Regions from separate parts of the Homo sapiens genome. Here regions 1 and 3 are each linked to region 2. Evidence: fine-mapped expression QTL. A gene starts in region 2. Each other region holds a variant in brackets. All regions are shown on one strand. Distances are between the middles of the regions. Region 1 has its middle 24 kb from the start of PARTICL. Region 2 holds the start of MAT2A (methionine adenosyltransferase 2A). Region 3 has its middle 41 kb from the start of PARTICL.

What was found.
Region 1: its variant is fine-mapped to the expression of MAT2A in whole blood (TOPMed, PIP above 0.99). The same link has a PIP of 0.9 or more in blood mononuclear cells.
Region 3: its variant is fine-mapped to the expression of MAT2A in whole blood (INTERVAL, PIP 0.96).

What each region holds. Positions count from the first base shown.
Region 1 is chr2:85,510,992-85,518,035 of GRCh38, reverse strand. No RefSeq gene overlaps it. Among named protein-coding and RNA genes, the nearest start is that of PARTICL, 24 kb to the left of the region's middle. RefSeq lists a silencer at 4,509-4,688. The variant G/A (reference allele first, on the strand shown) is at 4,127.
Region 2 is chr2:85,536,149-85,543,192 of GRCh38, reverse strand. MAT2A (methionine adenosyltransferase 2A) reads right to left here and starts at 4,025. Exons shown (of 9, transcript NM_005911.6): 1 at 3,815-4,025; 2 at 2,033-2,110; 3 at 1,816-1,938; 4 at 1,448-1,560; 5 at 1,221-1,364; 6 at 820-1,038; 7 at 446-628; 8 at 159-292. The coding sequence starts at 3,905. PARTICL (promoter of MAT2A antisense radiation-induced circulating long non-coding RNA) reads left to right here and starts at 4,307. Exons shown (of 1, transcript NR_038942.1): 1 at 4,307-5,726. RefSeq lists silencers at 3,438-3,767, 3,948-4,217 and enhancers at 4,248-4,337, 4,408-4,617, 5,018-5,107.
Region 3 is chr2:85,494,401-85,501,444 of GRCh38, reverse strand. No RefSeq gene overlaps it. Among named protein-coding and RNA genes, the nearest start is that of PARTICL, 41 kb to the left of the region's middle. The variant C/T (reference allele first, on the strand shown) is at 3,214.

The sequences.
Region 1 (7,044 bases), 25 kb after region 2:
TCATTGGCTTCCACAGAGTAAAATTCAGATCATTTAGCCAAGGCACATGAATCTCTCCCCAAACTCCTTTGACTCCTATGGCCATCTCTGCAGAAGCTTACACAAACACACCCCATTTGAAGGACAGTTTCAGGGCTCAGGACCCCTGCAGCTGGCGAAAGACCATGGGTTTCAAGTGCCTGCTCTGTGACAAGGCTTTGCCTTCCCAGGTTATCATCCCCTCTCTGCACTCCCAGCCCCGCAACATGCCACGTTCTTCAGACACATCCAGCCTGTCTTGGCCTCCACAGCTTCATTTTCTTTTTGTTTCTTTTTTTTTTTTTTTTTTCTTTGAGACGGAGTCTCTCTGTTGCCCAGGCTGGAGGGCAGCCGCATGATCTCGGCTCACTGCAACCTCCGCCTCCTGGATTCAAGCGATTCTTCTGCCTCAGCCTTCGGAGTAGCTGAGATTACAGGGACGCGCCAGCATGCCCCGCTAATTTTTGTATTTTTAGTAGTGACAAGATTTTACCATATTGGCCAGGCTGGTCTTGAACTCCTGACCTCAGGTTATCCACCCATCTCAGCCTCCCAAAGTGCTGGGATTACAGGCGTGAGCCATCATGCCCTGCCACAGCTGCACTTTGGGCATCTCCCTGCCCAGAACCCACCACTCTGCTGTTTCCAGGTCCCAACCACCTTTCAGGGCCTCTTCTCATCTAAACCTTCTCTGACTACCTTGGCCTTTGTGCATCTCCCCTTCCTCTTGACTTCTGTCCTGGCCCAGAAAATACAGGTCATTCTGTGCAGGCTGCCCAACTGGATTGCCAGGCCCCAGAGGGCAGGGATGATGGCGATCAGGTGGTGCAGGCCCTTCCACATCTTCTTTGCCTGTAGGTGTTGCCTTTCAGGACATGATGGTGAACATGATCATGCAGGAAAAATAAATAAATGAAAAACAAACATTAATACAAGAATCATTCTCTCTTTTTCTATTGCAGATTAGGCCCTCCTTCTGTCTCCCCCGACCCTCGCCCCCCCACCCCCAATCTGCTACAAAATATCCAGTATAACTCCTTTATCCTTTCGTGTGTAAAATAAGGAAGCTAAATTCTAGAGAATAGAGAAGTTGAAAAAGTAAACTAATACATTTCCTTTAATGACTCAGCCCAGGAAAGGTAAGCAAACAACTTGGACTTCAGACAGAGGTCGATAGCTGCTGATGGAGGTGATCCAGGCACTTCCGAGGCTGTGCAGGAAGGGCCAAAGCCGGTGCCTGGGAGAGCCGGATAGGTTTCTGCTGCTAAACCAAGTCTGCAGGGTGAGTTGATAAAGGAATGCTGATTCCCAAAGAAACTAAGGGTGCCAGATGGGACCTCTGTCACCATCTCTGAAATACCAGTGGGTTAATATTGCATAAGCACGAATGCTTTTTAAAAAATGCACATACACACACATATATATGTCTATACAATATATTTTTTTGTAGCTGGAGTGTGAGGAGTGGGAATCTGTGGTTGTGAATCCATAGGGTGCTGAGCAGAGTCCCCATATGATTTGGGACCTGTAGTGCCACGACACTCACCTCACAATAGCACAAGCTTCTTGCTCTGAAGGGTAGATAAACGATGTTTAAAGGGAGAGCATTGCTTGATTTTACACCTTTGTTTTAAAAAAATATGATAAAGGGAGAACAAATATTATTGTGGGAAGGACTTTTCTGTGAGAGGAGTAAAACCACCCATCCTGGGCTACACCGCAAGTATCTAGTTGTCTTTAAAGGAGTGAAAAAAAATCTGCTTCGTGTTATTTTTTTCCCCTATATTCTTGCCCCTTCATCCTGCCTATCTCTGCAAAACCTATTCCGCCCCCCACCGCCCTTTTTTTTTTTTTTTTTGTAAACAGAGACTGGCTTTGTCGCCCAGGCTGGAGTGCAGTGGCACTATTTCAGGCCACTGCAACCTCTGCCTCCTGGATTCGAGCGATTCTCCTGCCTCAGCCTCCTGAGTAGCTGGGACTACAGGCGCACACCACCACACCCAGCTAATTTTTGTATTTTTAGTAGAGATGGGGTTTCACCATGTTGGCCAGTCTGGTCTCGAACTCCTGACCTCAGGTGATCCACCCCCCGCCTCAGTCTCCCAAAGTGCTGGGATTACAGGCTGAGCAAACTTGCCTGGTCTTACCTTGGTATTGTTTTGCTAAAAAATGCACAGTAGTCTTCTATTTCTTAATGCATTGAATGCAAACTTTATCAAGCTTGACTTTGAAGACCTGGGCAGCCCACCCAGTCCTAACTTCCTAGGGTCATTTGCCCCACCCCACAACCAGCCTTCCCCCTGCACAGGTGCCATGTCCTGTCTCGGACCCAGGCTCCACTTGAGGCTCAGCCTCTCCCTTGCATCCTGAAAAGCTTTTTGTGTGAACTGCACTAATTTTCCTCATGTTACACCGAGCTCCCTAGCTATAGAGTAAAGTCCTTGAAGGCAAGACCTTTGTCTTACTCGCCCCTGAGCTCACTTCTGTGTCTGGACCGTAGCCAACATAGCATGGCTGAAACCTCTTAAAAGCTAGGTCAGGGTGGCTCATGCCTATAATCCCAGCACTTTGGGAGGTCGAGGTGAGCGGATCACCTGAGGTCAGGAGTTCGAGACCAGCCTGGCCAACATGGTGAAACCTCATCTCTACGAAAAATACAAAAATTAGCTGGGTGTGGTAGCGCACACCAGTAGTCTCAGCTACTCAGGAGGATGAGGCAGGAGAATCGCTTGAACCCAAGAGGCGGAGGTTGCAGTGAGCGAAGATCTCGCCACTGCACTCCAGTCTAGATGACAGAGTGAGACTCGGTTCTTAAAAAAAAAAAAATTGCTAGGTCAATTCAATTGGGACTTCTGGCCCTCTGCCTGGTCCCCTCACTGTCTTCCTCAAAGACTTAGGGCCATTCCCCTGTGAATCTCAAATCAGGGCAGCCCTCAGTGCCTCCTCTCCATATCTTAATCAGATACGAATAATCAGAGATGACAGTATTTAAAGAAGCCTTGGGGGATCAATTACAAATAGCCCAATTTCAGTTACAAAGGACTTTCACTTTGATCTAATATTTAAGTGAGAGACTCTCACCTGAATACAGACCTGATAAAAAACATTAGAAGGATTAAATGCTTTGCTTAAGGTCACACAGAATGCATCAAAACTTGCACTTAAAGTGGGGACCTATCTTTTAAATCTAGCAATATATTTTTTCCAGCACCATATCTTGGTAGCCAATGGTGATAACAAAGCTGTTTTTGTTTTTCTAAAATGAAAAATATACTAATGTCTTTATTTAGAGTTTTTCTAATAAAATACAAATCATTACTACCCTGTTGGGTACAACATATTAAAAATGTTTTTATCTTAGCTGTCTTATCTGCCTGGGTTTGGGATAGATTTTAGGATTTAATATTATTGGGTCACGTAATATCATTATGTTTATCAGAGTGAAATCTAGTTTAGCCTTTTGCGTACTCAATAAAAACCATCGTGAATTTTAGAAAAACTGCTCAGAGTTCATATTTGAGCAGTTGCGTATTGGCAGCAGCATCTTGATATAAAAGACAACTTGTTATTTTTACGCATTCTGGAATTGTGAAACTTAGAAAGCACATTATGTTTTTTTTTTTAAAGATTATGTTTGTTTAGTGCTTTATATCTATTATAATCCTTATGAAAGCCCCGTGAAGCAAGTGTGTAAGAACTGGCATTTTAGGCTGGGCACGGTGGCTCATGCCTGTAATCCCAGCACTTTGGGAGGCCAAGGTGGGCAGATCACTTGAGGTCAGGAGTTCAAGAGCAGCCTGGCCTACATGGTGAAACCCCGTCTCTACTAAAAATACAAAAATTAGCCGGGCATGGTGGCAGGTGCCTGTAATCCCAGCTACTGGGGAGGCTGAGGCCAGAGAATCACTTGAACCTGGAGGGTGGAGGTTGCAGTGAGCCGAGATCTTGCCACTGCACTCCAGCCTGGGTCACAGAGCGAGACTCCATCTCAAAAAAACCCAAAAATAATAAAAATAAAAATAAAATTTTAAAAAATAAAAAAATTAAAAATAAATAAAGATGAAGAAACCAAAGCCACGGGGCCTAAGTGGTGTGACCAGGGTCACTG[G/A]ACTCATTGGTGGCTGCATTGGTCAGGGTCTTGGCAAGAAACAGAGGGCACACTCCAGTTGGGTAATTTCAGCAGAACCTAATAAAGGAACTCTTTACAAAAATAGGGGCAGGGTGCAGGGAAGCCACAGGGACAGTGTGTTGTTGTGGGGAGCTACATAGGCTTGCCATGGAGGGAGGAAGGAGGGCCAGGTCACCAGAACTGGAGAGGCCTGCAGTGTCAGTGCACAGAGACCTCCTAGGTCTAAGAACTCAGGATAATTAACACCCAACCCCTCTGTCCTCCCTCCTTCTGATCCCCTAAAGGAGACCCTCGTTGGCCTTATTGGAAGCCAGAGGGCAAGGGAGCCTGCTGAGGTTTCTACACAGGTCAGTCTCCTGGGCACTGAAGAGAGAGAGTAGGGAGTGGCTCCCGGATGGAGTAGGCAACAGAAGATATCCAGCACAGAGGTGAATCCATGAGTAAACCTCAGACTTCCTTTAAAAAAATAATAGTAGGGCCGGGCGTGGTGGCTCATGCCTGTAATCCCAGCACTTTGGGAGGCCGAGGCAGGTGGATCACCTGAGGTCAGGAGTTCGAGGCCAGCCTGGCCAACGTATAGTGAAACCCCGTCTCTACTAAAAAATACAAAAATTAGCTGGGCATGGTGGTGCACGCCTGTAGTCCCAGCTACTTGGGAAACCAAGGCTGGAGAATCACTTGAACCCGGGAGGCAGAGGTTACAGTGAGCTGAGATCATACCACTTTACCCCATCCTGGGCGACAGAGTGAGACTCTAACAAAGCAAAACAAAACAAAATAAAAAATAATAGGTCAGGCATGGTGGCTCATGCCTGTAATCTCAACAATTTGAAAGGCCGAGGCAGGCGGATCACTTGAGGCCAGGTGTTCGAGACCAGCCTAGGCAACATAGCGAAAGCTCGACTCTACTAAAAATACAAAAATTAGCCAGGCATGGTGGCACATGCATGTCATCCTAGCTACTTGGGAGGCTGAGGCACAAGAATCACTTGAACCCGGGGATAGAGGCTGCAGTGAGCCAAGATCATGCTACTGCACTCCAGCATGGGTGACAGAGGAAGACTCGGTCTCAAAATAATAATAATAATATGATAATAATGAATAGATAATTATGTGAGGTGATGAATATGTTAATGGTCTTGATTGTGATTGTTTCATAATGTATACCTATATCAAAACATTAAGTTGGACCAGCATGATGGTTGATGCCTGCAATCCCAGCACTTTTCAAGGCTGAGGTGGGAGGATCACTTGAGCCTAGGATTTCGAGACCAGCCTGGGCAACATAGTAAGACCTCATCTCTACAAAAAATCAAAAAATAGCCAGGTGTGGGGCATGCACCTATAGTCCCAGCTACTTGGGAGGCTGAGGCAGGAGGATCACTTGAGCCTGGGAGGTGGAGTTTGCAGTGTAACCGAGATTGTGCCACTGCAGTCAGCCTGGGCAGCAGAGAGAGGCCCTGTCTCTAAAAAAATGAAAAACAGGGGCTGGGCACAGTGGCTTATGCCTGTAATCCCAGCACTTTGGGAGGCAGAGGTGGGTGGATCACCTGAGGTCAGGAGTTTGAGACCAACCTGGCCAATGTGGTGAAACCCCATCTCTACTAAAAATACAAAAATTAGCCGGGTGTGGTGGCAGGCGCCTGTAATCCCAGCTATTCGGGAGGCTGAGGCACAAGAATTGGTGGAATCCGGGAGGCAGACGTTGCAGTGAGCCAAGATCGCGCCATTGCACTCCAGCCTGGGCAACAAGAGCAAAACTCTGTCTCAAAACAAAATAAAAGAAAAAAAAAAAAAACAACCCCACCCCCTCCAAAAAAAAAAAACCGTTAAGTTGTACACCTTAAATATGTACAGTTGTTATTTGCCAGTTATACTGAAATAAAGCTGAAAAAAAAAACTGATCTCGGACTTCTTGTCCCTTGATCCTATGCTCTTTCCATAACACTGTGCCTGAGACACATAACACTGTGCCTGAGTCCTAGCTCCTAGCACAGAATTTCAGAGAAGTTCCCTTCAGGACCACCCTTTGGCCCACAACATCCCTCAACATTAAACTTTAAGCTCGTTTTCTAAAGCGTTCTGTGAATATTAGCCTCTATGGAAGGATCCCATAGGATCCTTTTTTGACAGCGATCCCATGGGAGCTATAAATCAGACTGGGTCAGGCAGTGGCCTGTGGGCTAGGCCAAGATGGCAGGGCTGGCAGGTTGAGAAAGGTCCCCTGAAGTCATCACTGGTTCTTGGCCATCATCACATCTTGGCAGAGATCCTCAGAGCCTTTAATGCAGCTGTAGTGGGCATTAGCCACGAGGCTGGCAAAGTTTCAAGAATAAAAGAATCCATTTTACTATCTTTTGCATCTGGCAATTAAAGGACCTTGAACAAAAGACTTCATCTCACAGCACTGTTGATAACTCTACGGTTTGCACTTGGCTACCCTGGCTTTATTTTTATATAATCCCTCTGGCATGAGACTCCAGGTTTTATAGAAAGTAAACATCTCGGGGGTGTTGGAGCTTTCTACCTTGGATGCGTTCTTTATTCACCTTTATCCTTGGTTCTCTGAGGGCTAAAGTCATAAAAAGTTTGATGACAGTGACCTCTTCCAAACCCAAGAGCTATGAGAGCAGTGTACTGAGAAATGCAAAGCCCAATGTTCTCATGGAACACAAACTCACCCAGAGGTCACAGAGAAAAAATTCTCAGTTCCTGTTCTGGCAGAATCATTTCCAAAGAAATGAAACCATGGTCACATCCAGCTTTTATGGTCTGAGTGGTCATATTCCTGAAAGAAGCATAACTACTAGAATCTAAGGTGACTTCACTACAAGGTTAATACATTCACTCCCCCAACTCCTCACCCAAATAAGGCCTTATGCACTGTGCATTTTCCC
Region 2 (7,044 bases):
GTCTTCACTAAGGCAGCAGTTCAAAACTGTTCCAGGAATTAAAATATATTCCCATTTGAGGAGTCTTCCTTCACACCTTCACCTCCTCAGCCTTAAGTATATACACACACACCCAACACCCTCAATACTTGACTAGCAACAGGCTTTACCATCTTTACCTGACAATGACCCCAGGGCGGAGATCGAAATTCTTCTTCACAATCTCTAATAGCTCTCTCTCACTCTTCTGAGAGGTACCATAATGGAAAATGGAGATAGATAATGGATGAGAAACTCCAATAGCATAAGAGACCTAAAAGGATTCAAATGTCGTAAGAATCAGTGATTGCAAAGACCCATATACTTGTATAATACGTTGGTATAAAACAAGTAGTTAAGTAGATTACTACTAAATACCCTCCCACTTACATGACTTTTAATCGTTCGTTATATAAAGAGTGTATACCTGAACAAGAACCCTCCGGCACAGACCTCCTTTAACAAGGGATTTTGCCACCCAACGAGCAGCATAAGCAGCTGAACGGTCGACCTTGGTATAATCCTTTCCTGAAAAGGCACCTCCTCCATGAGCACCCCAACCGCCATAAGTGTCCACAATGATTTTGCGTCCAGTCAAACCAGCATCACCCTGAAATTACAGGATTTAAGTTACTTTACGCCTAGTGCTTTCCAAGTGGATTAGGTTGCCTATTCTGAATTCATTCAGCAAATATCCTCCGATGATTCACATGTAGGTTTCAGAAAGCCTGAAAAAAATGTAGTAGCCAAAATTTTAAGTAACCATCAAAAATCCAGAAAAATGCAACAAAATGACATTACCTGAGGCCCACCAATAACAAATCTGCCACTTGGCTGTAGGTGGTAGATTGTATCCTCATCAAGGTATTTCGCAGGCACAACTGCTTTGATGACTTTCTCCTTTAGGGCATCCCTCATTTCATCAAGACAAACCTCTTCATCATGCTGAACAGATATAACAATTGTGTGGACTCTGATGGGAAGCACAGCACCTCGATCCTGCATATACTGCACAGTAACCTTGAAGGCAACACAGGTCATCAGAACATCACACCAAACAATAACTTTGTATTTGTTTCTCTACCTGAAGTTACAATATAGGAAAACAAATGCTATTTTTTCCAGTTAGCTATTATCAAAATTATGGATCTTCTGTGCTGATGTAATAAATGAGACAACCAAGCTTTATGATCATCACTTACTTGAGTTTTAGAATCAGGGCGTAACCAAGGCAAAGTGCCATTACGGCGTAGTTCTGCCAGTTTGGCATTTAGCTTGTGTGCCAAGACAATGGTTAAAGGCATACACTCCTCAGTTTCATCAGTGGCATAGCCAAACATTAAGCCCTAAAGAAAGAAAAGTCACCAATGTGATCAAGCTCCAGAATTTAATGTTAGAAGAGATTAAAACAGCCTCTACACCAAGATACCTGGTCTCCAGCACCAATGTCTTCTTCATTTCTGTCAAGATGAACACCTTGAGCAATATCTGGTGACTGTTGCTCCAAGGCTACCAGCACGTTACAAGTCTTGTAGTCAAAACCTATAAGCAAAAAACACAACATCTTGTTTACGTCCTAGAAATACCTGCTGTTTACAGCAATTATCTGGAATTCTAAACACTGCTGAAGAAATCAAATATACCTAAACCATCGGACCTTTTAGAGAATGAACAGAATAGGGCTTAGTGTATAGTAAGATACAACTGGAGTTTAGGATTAGCAGGAACATTCTAGGAGTTTCTTCAAACCTCACAGCTGTTACCTAGAAAAAAATGAGCAAAATCATTAAAACACACCTTTGGAAGAATCATCATATCCAATGTGTTTAACAGCTTCACGAACCACTTTCTGGTAGTCAACAGCAGCTCTGGATGTAATTTCCCCAGCAAGAAGGATCATTCCAGTTTTAGCAACAGTTTCTAATAAAAAGAGACATTCAACTCAAACATCACTTCTATAAAAATAATTTTTATGCTATCTTTCCACCAGTTGATAAGCACATTCTGAACCTACCACAAGCTACTTTGGCATCAGGATCCTGCTGAAGGTGGGCATCAAGGACAGCATCACTGATTTGGTCACAAATCTTATCTGGAAAAGAGAAATTCCTGGCTCAGTTTCTTTAACTTTAAACAAAGTATGTATGTATGTATGCAAGCTCCCTCCCTGTTACTATCTGTAAAATCTTTGGAGATTTTAAAAAACATGCTTAATACATCTTAATTCATTGTGTTTGCACTTTCCTCCTAAAATTCAAAGTTTGCATTATAAATCTAATCACCAGAAAGGTGAACTGTTAGTCCTATATCCTTTAAAGAACAGAATTTGCCCTATATCATATTCACTTCCACAACTGTACCAAACCCCTCTGCACCTGGGAGTCTGGTAGAACTGAGGCCACAGGTAGGCCAGTTTCCCTAATCTTAAGGAACACCAATTATAATGAGCAACAAGATAATTCGATTAAACAATTAAATGAAAAGCATTTTCTGACTAAAATGGCAATTATCTGATTTTGCTGTTAGGAGTTGCGCAGGAAACAAAAGCTCAACAGTGTAGAAGATGCTCAAACGTATTCCGAATCCATGTCTCCCTGCTTTGTCATCTATTGTTAGGAGGGAGAACAAATATCTCCCTAATTCAAGTTCGTTTTTCTGAATTTTCTATAACCGCCTAAAACAGAATCCAAACATAATGTGGAAGCCAGACTGCAGGCTCTGAACTTCGGTCTACTACTAACTGGTGTAACAGCTAACCTTCAGCACTCATCAAGATCCTGGGTTTGTCCTCTCATACCACTAAGTTACTTGTGGGATTTCATCATGGGCACAGTAAACTGACCAGACCCTAAAGCCACCAGATAGATAACTACTGCGGTCATCCTAAGGGCAGAAACAGCCAAAAGAGCCAAATAATCATCTTTACTAGCCGATATGCTCAGGCTGAGATTTTCAGTTCCTGGAAATATAGCTTTACTCCTCCTTCACGTGCCAATTGATCCCCATAATGGCGGTTGAGCGGACAAAGCCTCAAGTAAAACCCTGCACCGAAGACTTTAAATGCGAACCCAAAGCAATGGCAGCTCCTAATTCATGCTTCCCATCCTTTTCACAAGGGGTCCAAATAAGGACTGCCTTCTTGGACATGAGCTATATTTAGTCAGAGGCCGTCACCTTGGAGGCAAGGCCATATCCGCCGAAGGGCATGTGCGTATTCTCCAGTGTGTAGTCAAGACCTAACCACTGAGGCAGTGGAGCCAGACGACGTCCCAAGGCATAGGCCCCCCACCCCTCAAACTGAGGGCCAGGACAGCCGGGGAGGCTCACGGCTCCCCCTCGCCCAGATACCACATGCGGCAAACACGTGGTCGCCGCTGCAATGCGGGGCGCGCGCTCCCGAGGGCCGGACGCGAGCACGCGGGGCGGGTCGCCCACTCCAGGTTTGTCAGACGGCAGGGCCGGGAGGGGTTAACAGTGCCCTCCCTTCCCGGCCAGAACTCACTAGCGACCACAGCCCCCGCCCTTCACGTTTTCTGGAACCTTCCGCATGCCTAGGCGCGCGACCGAATGAAAAGGGAGGGGGGAAGGGAAGGGTGGAGAGGGGAGGGGGAAGAGGAGCGGCGGCCACGCGCCAGGCCCTGGCGGCGCCACGAGGAAAGCGCGCGGTCGCCGCTCTTCCATCACCCGGCGGACGAGGACGACCCGCGCGGGCCCCACCACCGGCCGGCCGCAGCCAGCCGGACCTTGGCGCTGCCTTCTGCCCCGCCCCACGCTTCGCTTCAGGCCGTCCCCTCACCTGGGTGGCCTTCCCCGACCGACTCTGAGGTGAAAAGGAATGTGCCCTCCTCGATGAACGCCTCGTGGAAGCCGTTGAGCTGTCCGTTCATGTTGGTGTCGGTGTGCGGAAGTGGCCTTACGAAGGAGCAGCGGCGAGGCGGCAGCGGCTGCGAAATGCGCAAGCTGCGGACAGCGTTCTACTCGTAGCAGGCGGGCGGCGCGGAGCGAACGAAGCAGCGGGCGGTGCGGCCCGGTATTTATAGAGCAGCGCCCGCGCGCGCCCGGCTCGGGCCCCGCCCCTCGGCGCCGCGCGCCAATGCACCACTTGCGCGGGGGTCGGGGGAGGAAGGGCAGCTCGCCCCGCGGAGTCCGGGCTGAACCACACTGCGCGGCCGCGGGAGGTGCCGTGGCAATCCGGCCCTCCAGAGACCGTTCAGCTATCTTGAGCCGCTAGAGCTAGGAGAAAAATGCAGACGCGAGGAGACGTGGGGGATTGCTCTTCCTTGTTTGATGTGGGAGAAAAAGCGACTGGGGCTTGCTGGACCCGCTCCCCTGTGCGGTGACATGGCACCTCCCTTCCGACCGTTGGCCGGGATAGCTTTCCCGGAGGTCGCGTCCCCCAGCGGAGGCGGCGGGAATCGCGGAGGTTTTGTGCTGCGGCTGGGGTCTTTCTGGCCGTCCCGCCTCTAGATGCCGGGTGGCAGGGAGCCGGTGGCGGTCGGCCATGTGAAGGTGGCCATCTTGGCCGGCCAGCGAGGGCTCCTCACGGCCTTCCTTCGGCGTCCCTGCCCGGCTCGTTGCCGGCCCCGGGATATCTGAGGGGCGCAGGCCCACCTTCTAGTCGTTTCCTGGTGAATGGCTCTGCTGAAGATGGCCGGAAAGCAGATTAATGAAGGTGCTGCCATCGATTTAAACAATCGCCCTCCTGCCCGCTCCCCTGCGCTAAAGTTTCTGAGGGATCCTCACCCTTCGTGGTTCGTGGACTTAAAAGTGGAGGCAGCGCTCCAGCCTTTCCCTCCAGAGAGAAAGGAGGCCGCTCCCAAGTCCGTCCTTGCCCCGTGGCCTTCCTGTTCCTTTGAAGGGGGGGGGAATCGATGTTTCAATCCTCTGTTCAGGAGAATATGGAACGAACATTTCTTTTTTGGTGGGTGGGGGCTATTCGTTCCCTTGAATGTGCTTAAGCAGATCTCTTGACGGCGTGGAATGGGCTGTTTCATGAAGCTTTCACTTTAAAATGTCCACCTGCGTTTGTCCCAGTTTTGCCCAATAAAGGAATTACAGGGAAAAAGAGCGAAACAAAACTTGAGCCAGCAAGGAGTATGGAGTCCCGTTTGGAGGGAGCCCGCCTTGGGGGCGGGGGTCTCTGCAGCCTGTTCTGGGGCTGGGCCTCGGTGCAGGTCTGGTCGGGCTGGTGGCCTGGTGGCCCTGAGCGGAGCGCGTGACAAGAACGCCGGGTTTAATGAGGTTCTCAGGGAACGGCCTGCTCCTAGCATGGGATGTACTTTACGCTGGGGAGGTGAAGGAGACCCCTAGTAACAGTCTCCAGCTGCCTACTGCTGGCGGCAGTAGAACAAGGTGCATTCCCAAGAACAATCCTCTCCGTCGGTGCAGGAGGAAAGGTGGGATTTGCTAAAGGCTCAGTGGGAAACAAAGGAAGCACTTGGGCTGTGCTGGGGGCATCCACAAAGAAGATAAAGGGCTCCTCCCCAGACTCAGTGACCACATCCACGGTCGCTCAAAGCAGGCAGCAAGAAAAGGTTCGACCACAAAAGAGACAATAGGTGATGATATTTTTATTCGTTGCTTTTTACTTTTCAAGCTAACCCTTCATGGGAAAGTAACTGTATAAGACTATTAAATTTTTTTGTTATTTTTTAAAGGAGAATGCCAATTTATTAACTTACAATGTGTAATAAAATTGTCAACTGGAACAAAATGCGTGTGTAGGCTGGTCAGTGCATTATCTCCCAGCAGAAAAATCTATATGGGAAGCCAGAATATAACTAGAAGGTTATTTTATTAGGGAGTCAGAACAAGGAGCGTAAAGTCAATGATTGGCTCATTAAATCCTGATACCCCTGTGCTACCAACTCCACAGTGGGGCTAGGCCTGCCAAGGAGATGAGATTTAGCTGTACATAGTTGCTTACCTACTTCTCTCACTTGTGAATAGTGTGTAGGTGTAATACAGTAAGAGTAGGGGTTTGGAGTCACGACCTCTCTATGCATCAGTATCCTCGTTCTGTAAAATTGGAATATTAATAGTACATCATAGGATTGTTTCAAGGATTCAAATAGTGCAAGTAGAGTCTTTAGCACAGTATCTAGTACATAATTTGTTTTAATGTAAGCTGTAAAAAAATTAACTATATTTGCTGTGAATTACTTTTCAGTGGCTTTCAATTGCTGTCGGGATACGGACTAAAATCTCTACATACTCAAGGCCCCAGTGTGATTTGGCTGCTACTTCTGCAACCTTACCTTGTGCCACACTCTCCTTTCTGTGTTCTACTTGGATTTTTTAGTTAGTAGCAGTTAATTTTATTAATTTCATAGTATCAAAACAAAGGAGGACACATTTTCATTTATTTTATATTATTCGTATTGTCCCTTCCTCCCTTCCACAAATATTTATGAGCACATCTGTGAGTCAGACCCAGGAGCAAATGCTATAACAATCCTGGTCTCTGCCCACTCGGCGCTCTAAATGTGGGGAGATGCCTGGCTAACTCCTTATCCTTCTCACTCCAGCTCAGCTACCACTTCCTGGATGAAGCCTTCATCTACACAGATTTGTCACAGGGGCCTGTGTTTTATTTCATGGCACTAAGTGCAGTTTCAAATTATAGATTTGGTGATTATTTGATGAATGTCTCCAATTCCCAGTTAGGCTTGTAAGCTCCATGATAATGAGAAGGTGGGCTGTTTTGCTCAAGCTTTGTTACTGAATGCCTGGCACACACAAGGTGCTTAGAAATGTTCAAGAGGGAGAGACAAGAAAGGAAGGGAAGGAAACGGAAAATGAACGAATATAAAGATGGCAGAAGGGGGCGGGGCACGGTGGCTCACGCCTGTAATCCCAGCACTTTGGGAGGCCGAGGCGGGGTGGATCACGAGGTCAGGAGATCCAGACCATCCTGGCTAACACGGTGAAATCCCATCTCTACTAAAAATACAAAAAATTAGCTGGGCGTGGTGGCGGGCGCCTGTAATCCCAGCTGCTTGGGAGGCTGAGGCAGGAGAATGATGT
Region 3 (7,044 bases), 42 kb after region 2:
GGCTTCCAGGTTGGTTCAGCCAATGGAAAGCTGGGAGAGAGGGAGGAGGTGGAGAGAAGCCAAGGTATCTCTCTCTCTTTCTCTTCTTCCTGTAGTGTCTCTGGCAACAGTTATGTCCTTAGGTGGCTCTCACATCTACTCTACAGGCCCTCCCTCCATGATCTCAGCTCCCATCAGGCAGCCTCTATGGGGTTTCAGATCCCACCAGATGGCCCCCACTCTGGGCTCTAGCTGCACTACCTCCTCCTACGTAACTCCCTGTATAGTAGCGTCTTGTGCTTCCATTAGACTTCTCAGTCCTTCCATTTCCAGTGCTGCCAATTCCCTGTATTAAATTCCTTCTGCCAGAGAGACCTAGAAGACTCTGTTTCCCTGGGTGGACCCTTACTTGTACCCAGACAATATGGCTGCAGAGCCCACAATCTTAACCTTTTCAGGTGAGAAAATAGACACAGACTTATATAACTTGCTCTAGGTTGCAAAACTAAAGTATAAAACAACCAAGAAAAATTTGGAAAATCAGAAAAACAAGAGGATGTCCTTTTAGATATCAAAAGATACCTTGAAGCTATAAGAATAAAAACAATGTGGTGCTGACCCTGAATCAGTGGAATAAATCAATGGAACAGAATCCAATTCAGAAACAACTATGGGAATAGAAGAATATTTTCTTCTTAAAGGGGGCATTTCAAAGAAGTGGAGAAATGCTATTAGAGGGATTAAGCCATTAATTTGGGGGAGAGTCCCAGAATAAATTTCAAATGGATTGAAGAGTTAAGCAACATGAAAGTACCAGAAATAAATAAAGAAGAACTAAGTCTTGGGATTAGGAAACTTCTTTCCAAGCAAGACTGAAAAACCAAAAGCCATAAAGGATAAAGCTGACAAATGTATAATTTACATGACAATTTAAAATGTTTGGTAGAGGAAAGAACCCAAAGCTCTAAAGAAATCTGTGCCTAGCTGGCTTTGTTTGAGATCTCCACTGTCCTCTGAAAATGGGGAAGGAAACTGAGACCGATTTCTTGGGTGCTCTTGCTGTTACTGCAATTCTAGCCCTTCCCCCAGCTCGAGGCACAAGGAGACGCTTCACAAAGCGAGAACCTGCCTGCTCCTTCATGCACAGTTTTCATTCGGTGCTAAAGCTGCAAAAATGAGATAAGCTGAAGCCAAAAGGTATTTGGAAAGTGGAGATGAATAGGTCAGGAACTCTGTACTCTTTTTAAAGAACGTTATCTATTTGGCCTACTTATTCTTTGGTCATGAGTGCTTGAGGGAAGGCAAGGACGACAGGACAAAGAAGACTGGGAATAACTGAAAACCTGGGCCTCAAAAGCAGTAGGGGAGAGGTGATATCTCCAGAGCAGCAGGACAGGCGAATGGAGCATTTGGTTCTCAATTCGTTTATATTAGTAAGTATGAGACCTTTCCTCTTACACGTTTTGTTTTTGTTTTATTTTTTCAGATAGAGTCTTGCTTTGTTGCCCAGGCTGGAGTGCAATGGCACGATCTCGGCTCACTGCAACCTCCTCCTCTTGGGTTCAAGTGATTCTCCTGCCTCAGCCTCCCAAGTAGCTGGGATTACAGGCGCCTGCCACCACGCCTGGCTAATTTTTGTATTTTTAATAGAGATGGGGTTTCTCCATGCTGGTCAGGCTGGTCTCAAACTCCTGACCTCAGGTGATCCACTCGCCTTGGCCTCCCAAAGTGCTGGGATTATAGGCATGAGCCACGGCGCCCAGCCTCTTACACATGTTAAAAGAAAATTTTATTTATTTTTTTGAGACAGAGTCTCCCTCTGTCGCCCAGGCTGGAGTGGAGTGGCGCGATCTCGGCTCACTGCAACCCCCGCCTCCCGGGTTCAAGTGTTTCTCTTGCCTCAGCCTCCTAAGTAGCTGGAATTACAGGCACCACCACCATATCCAGCTGATTTTTGTATTTTTAGTAGAGACAGGGTTTCACCATGTTGGCCAGGCTGGTCTTGAACTTCTGACCTCAGGTGATCCACCCGCCTGGGATTACAGGCATGAGCCACCATGCCCAGCCAGAAAAATTTTAGACATATTAAAGTTAACAGAGTTTAATTGAGCAAAGAATGATTCATGAATCCGGTAACTCCCTGAACCAGAGGGACTCTGATGCTGCCATGTGGTCAGAGAGGAATTTATGGACAGGAAAAGGAAAATGGGCTGGGCGTGGTGACTCACGCCTCTAATCCCTGCACTTTGGCAGGCCAAGGAGAGCGGATCATTTGAGCCCAGGAGTTCAAGACCAGCTTGGGCAGTATGTTGAAACCCTGTCTCTACAAAAAAATACAAAAATTAGCCAGGCGTGGTGGTGTGCACCTATAGTTCTGGCTAATCAGGAGGGTGAGGTGGGAGGATGACTCGAGGCCAGGAGGTGGTGGTTGCAGTGAGCCACGATCATCCCACTGCACTCCAGTCTGGGGGATGATAGAGCAGGACTTGGTCTCAAACAAAACAAAACAAAACAAAAACAAAAAAAGGAAAATGACATACAGAAAATGGAAGTCAGGCTGGGCGTGGTGGCTTATGCCTGTAATCCCAGCAGTTTGGGAGGCCAAGGTGGGTGGATCACTTGAGGTCGGGAGTTTGAGACCAGGCTGGCCAGATGGTGAAACCCCTTCTCTACTAAAAATACAAAAATTAGCCGGGTGTGGTGGCGCACATCTGTAATCCCAGCTACTCAGGAGGCCAAGGCAAGAGAATCTCTTGAACCTGGGAGGTGGAGGTTGCAGTGAGCCAAGATTGCACCACTGCTCTCCAGCCTGGACAACAGAGTAAGATTTCGTCTCGAAATAGATAAATAAGTAAATAAATAAAATTAAAAAAGAAAATGGAAGTGATGTATAGAAATAGCCATATTGGTTACAGATCGGTGTTTATTTTATTTGAACATAGTTTGAACAGTTGACCACCTGTGATTTGCTAAAACTCAGTGATTGGTACTGTCTGTTTACACATCCAGTTAGGTTACAGTTTAATATGTTTACAGACTAAACTTAAAATATGTAAGCAGGCAGCTTTAGGCTAAACTTAATTGAACAATTTCTTCCTTTTAGTCAACCTCTTAAAATGAAGAGGTTGACCAAACTTTATGTATTGCTGTCACTTTGTCACCATAGCAAATAGACTTACTTGGTTTCAAATCCCACTGAGAAATAGTGGAACACTGTGTTTTATAAGGTGGAAA[C/T]GAGGAATTTAGATTCCCTTTTTGTAAAGGGTAGAGCAGAGACGACTTCCTTATTATACTATAATCCCCTCTTTTCTGGAGAAAAAAAATCTGGTCTCTTTGGGGATCCATATGCTTCCTTAAAGTTTTAGTTTGATTGTGCTGCATTTAGCATGAGTTGACTCCATTTGGTTAGATCCAATCTAGTCTGTTGGGGCCTAGTGCATGAGTTCAGTCCAAAACAATGGCCTCCCATAATTTTGTTGAACAATTCTCCCCTTTTGATCATGTTGTCACTTAAGTGAGAGTGTGACCAAAACATCGCTAATTGCTACTCTCAGTTATGATCATTTTGGGTTTCTGGTCTCAACATGTCTTTCATAGGTTATAGTGTCCTCATGATTATGTATTTCTTTGAGATTTTGTCATCCCAGTTGAAGAGAGACCATTTGACATTCTATGCATGGCTGCATTAAACATTTACAATTTTTGAGAGGATATATTTCACCAGGGAGATGACTATTATGACTACCAGAAGGACAATACCAAGAGTTTGGAGTATGCTGCTTAGCCAGGGTCCCCATGAACTGAACCAACTAAAATTAAATAGATTAAAGAATAAGCTTGATAAATGGTCTACGAGTTTCGACCAAGCAGCCAGTTTTTTAATCCCCTGCAAATGAATCTCTATAGTACCTGACATATTCATCCATGTGCAACAAGAAGTGTCAGCAATTGGCTGGGCATGGTGGCTTACACCTATAACCCAGCACTTTGGGAGGCCCAGGCAAGAGGATTGTTTGAGCCCAGGAGTTCGAAACCAGCTCGGGCAACGTAGTGAGATCCTGTCTCTCTCTCTCTCCTCTCTCTCTCTCTCTCTCTCTCTCTCTCTCTCTCTCTCTCTCTCTCTGTGTGTGTGTGTGTGTGTGTGTATGTATATATATATATATATATGTAGTCAGCAACTGCACAGATTCTTCTCTGTTCAGCCAGTAAGTAGCCTAGAGCAGTTCTATTATGTAGCACAACTTTAGCAAAAAGTTTAAAGAAGTCTTTAGCATAGTGTTTATAGTTGAATCTGCTATAGAGTCTACTATGAGGGACAAATTTCTAATCATTGCCTCATTTACCCCAAATCATGGAAAAAGCAACCTAACGAATTATGCCCATTCAGAAGGGTGAAGGCCTCCTGGCAACGTTTGCTTCAACCTATAATGTAGGTTAAAAGAAATAGACCAATGTTCTGTTTCTGACTGATTATGGAGCTACAAAGGTACCGTGAAAATTCCTCACCCACTTTGGCCCTTCATCTTCTATCCATCAAGGCATAAGGTTGCTCATGCATAAGGTTAGCGGTGAAATCCTCCACAAATAAAAGTATACCCCATGGGTCCACACAAGACTTTTTCTAGTTCTAGTCTTCATAAAGGCATAAGCGAGGAAAAAATTAAGAGAGGTAAGAGTCTCATGATGGCAAAGAAGTCTTGATCTGTCATCTTGAGAAAGCTTTCCACATCTAGGATTCCATCTGCTTCTGGTGAGAAACTTCCCTGGTTAGCTTTATCTTGAGGTCTCCAACAGATATACAGTTCTAAGAGTCTGGAGGGGCCCTTCTGAGTTGTGAGATTACAGACCCAAGGTTCAAAGTCCTAAAGTTTTGCTGCAGTGTGGGTGGCAAGGTGTGTTGTTTCTAGAAGACCCAATCTCTATGTTCTTGATCATGAAGGATTTAATTGTCCTCAGTCAGTGGATCATGAAAACCTTCCTTACCTGGTGAAAATGCACTTTGGCATAATGCATTAAAGCCACAGTTAGCCATATCAAAGTTTAGGAGCAGAAGATACATGAGTTTTTGTTTTGTTTTGTTTTGTTTGTGTGTGTGTGTGGTTTTATTGTGTGTGTGACAGAGTCTCGCTCTGTCACCCAGGCTGGAGTGCAGTGGCTCAGTCTTAGCTCACTGCAACCTCCACATCCCGGGTTCACGGGATTCTCCTGCCTCAGCCTCTCGAGCAGCTGGGATTACAGACATGCACCACCATGCCTGGCTAATTTTTGTATTTTTGTAGAGACGGGGTTTCACCATGTTAGCCAGACTGGCTTGGAACTCCTGACCTCAGGTGATCCACCCGCCTCGGCCTCCCAAAGTGCTGGGGTTACAGGCGTGAGCCACAGCGCCTAGTCATGAGTTTCTATTATTAGGGGCATAGGCCTTCCAGTGACTGTTTTATAAAGGGTCAACTGATGTTTTCTGCTGAAAGTGGATCTAATTGTCATCAATCTGCAATACCTTTGACCAAGACAATCCAGTTGATTTACTTAGCTTTGCCTAGTACTATTTTGTCTGTAGTTTCTTATTTAACTGTTTTACAATTTGTTCAATGAAACAAATACATTTATCACTGGAGATTTCTCCAGGAATGCCCCCTGAAAAAAACACACTTCCTAATAAACTTTTAGCTACTGTTATATCATCAGACTTCTTTCGTGGGAAAGCTTCTATACAACCAGAAAATATGCATTCCGAATGACAATTGAATGAACTCCCTCTATAAATGTTCAAATGGCCAATCAGGTAGCAGAAGTGTACCTGAAGTTTTTATTGTTTCCCCAGGATTATGGATTTGACAAACTAAGCATTGGTCAAAAACCATTTTAGCAATTTAAAACGGTCACACCACACACACACACACACACACACACACATTTTCTATTTGGATCATTTAATCTCTACCATAATGTGTCATGGAGTACAGAGCTTCTAAGAGTGGAAGCTTTAAGGATTCAGGAAGGATGAGGCAGCTGTCCAGGCTCTCCATGAGTTTATGCTTAACATTGGATGTATATCTTCTTCAATACCAATTTTGTTTTTCCAATTCAGGTGAATAGTACTGTTTAATAACTGGGTTGGCCTGGTGCAGTGGCTCACACCTGTAATCCCAGCACTTTGGGAGGCCAAGACAGATGGATCTTTGAGTTCACAGATCAAGACCAGCCTGGGCAACATGGTGAAACCCCATCTCTACAAAAAATACAAAAACCAGCCAGGTGTGGTGGTGCATGTCTGTAGTCTCAGCTACTTGCGGGGCTTAGGTGGGGGATGGGGAAGGGGTGGCGAAGGAGGTTACAGTGAAACGAGATTGCACCACTGCACTCCAGCCTGGGTGATAGAGCCAGACCTTGTCTCAAAATAAATAAATAGGTAAAAACTGGGTTATCACAGGTAATCTGACTTGGACCATGGAGTTCATTCAAACTGCATATCCTAACAATTTCAGTACTGGCTGATTTAGCATGAAAATCTGGCAATGGCCGGTCATGGTGGCTCACACCTGTAATCCCATCACTTTGGGAATCTGAGGCGGGCAGATCACTTGAGTCCAGGAGTTCAAGACCAGCATGGGCAACATGGTAAAATCCTGTCTCTACAAAAAAATACAAAAATTAGCTGGGCATGGTGGCACATGCCTGTCGTCCCAGCTACTTAGGAAGCAGAGGTTTCAATGAGCCGAGATCATGCTATTGCACTCCAGCCTGGGTGACAGAATGAGACTCTGTCTTTAAAAAAAAAAAGATGTGCTTGTCAGGGTCCTTTATATTCTTTCCATGAACCTCCTTGAAGACACAACACTCTATGATTTTACTTGCTCGTAAAGAGCTTTCAGAAAATGCATCAGAATTAAGTAATTAACTGTGGAAACAATTTAAAATCGTCATAGTTAAAGACCCAATTGACAAGGAAATTTGGTTATTTCTGTGGACTGTAATAATTTAACATAATAGCCATAACTGTGACTTATACCAAGACATATCAGAATTTTAGGAATCTCATACAGTCTTATTTTGTTTTTGTTT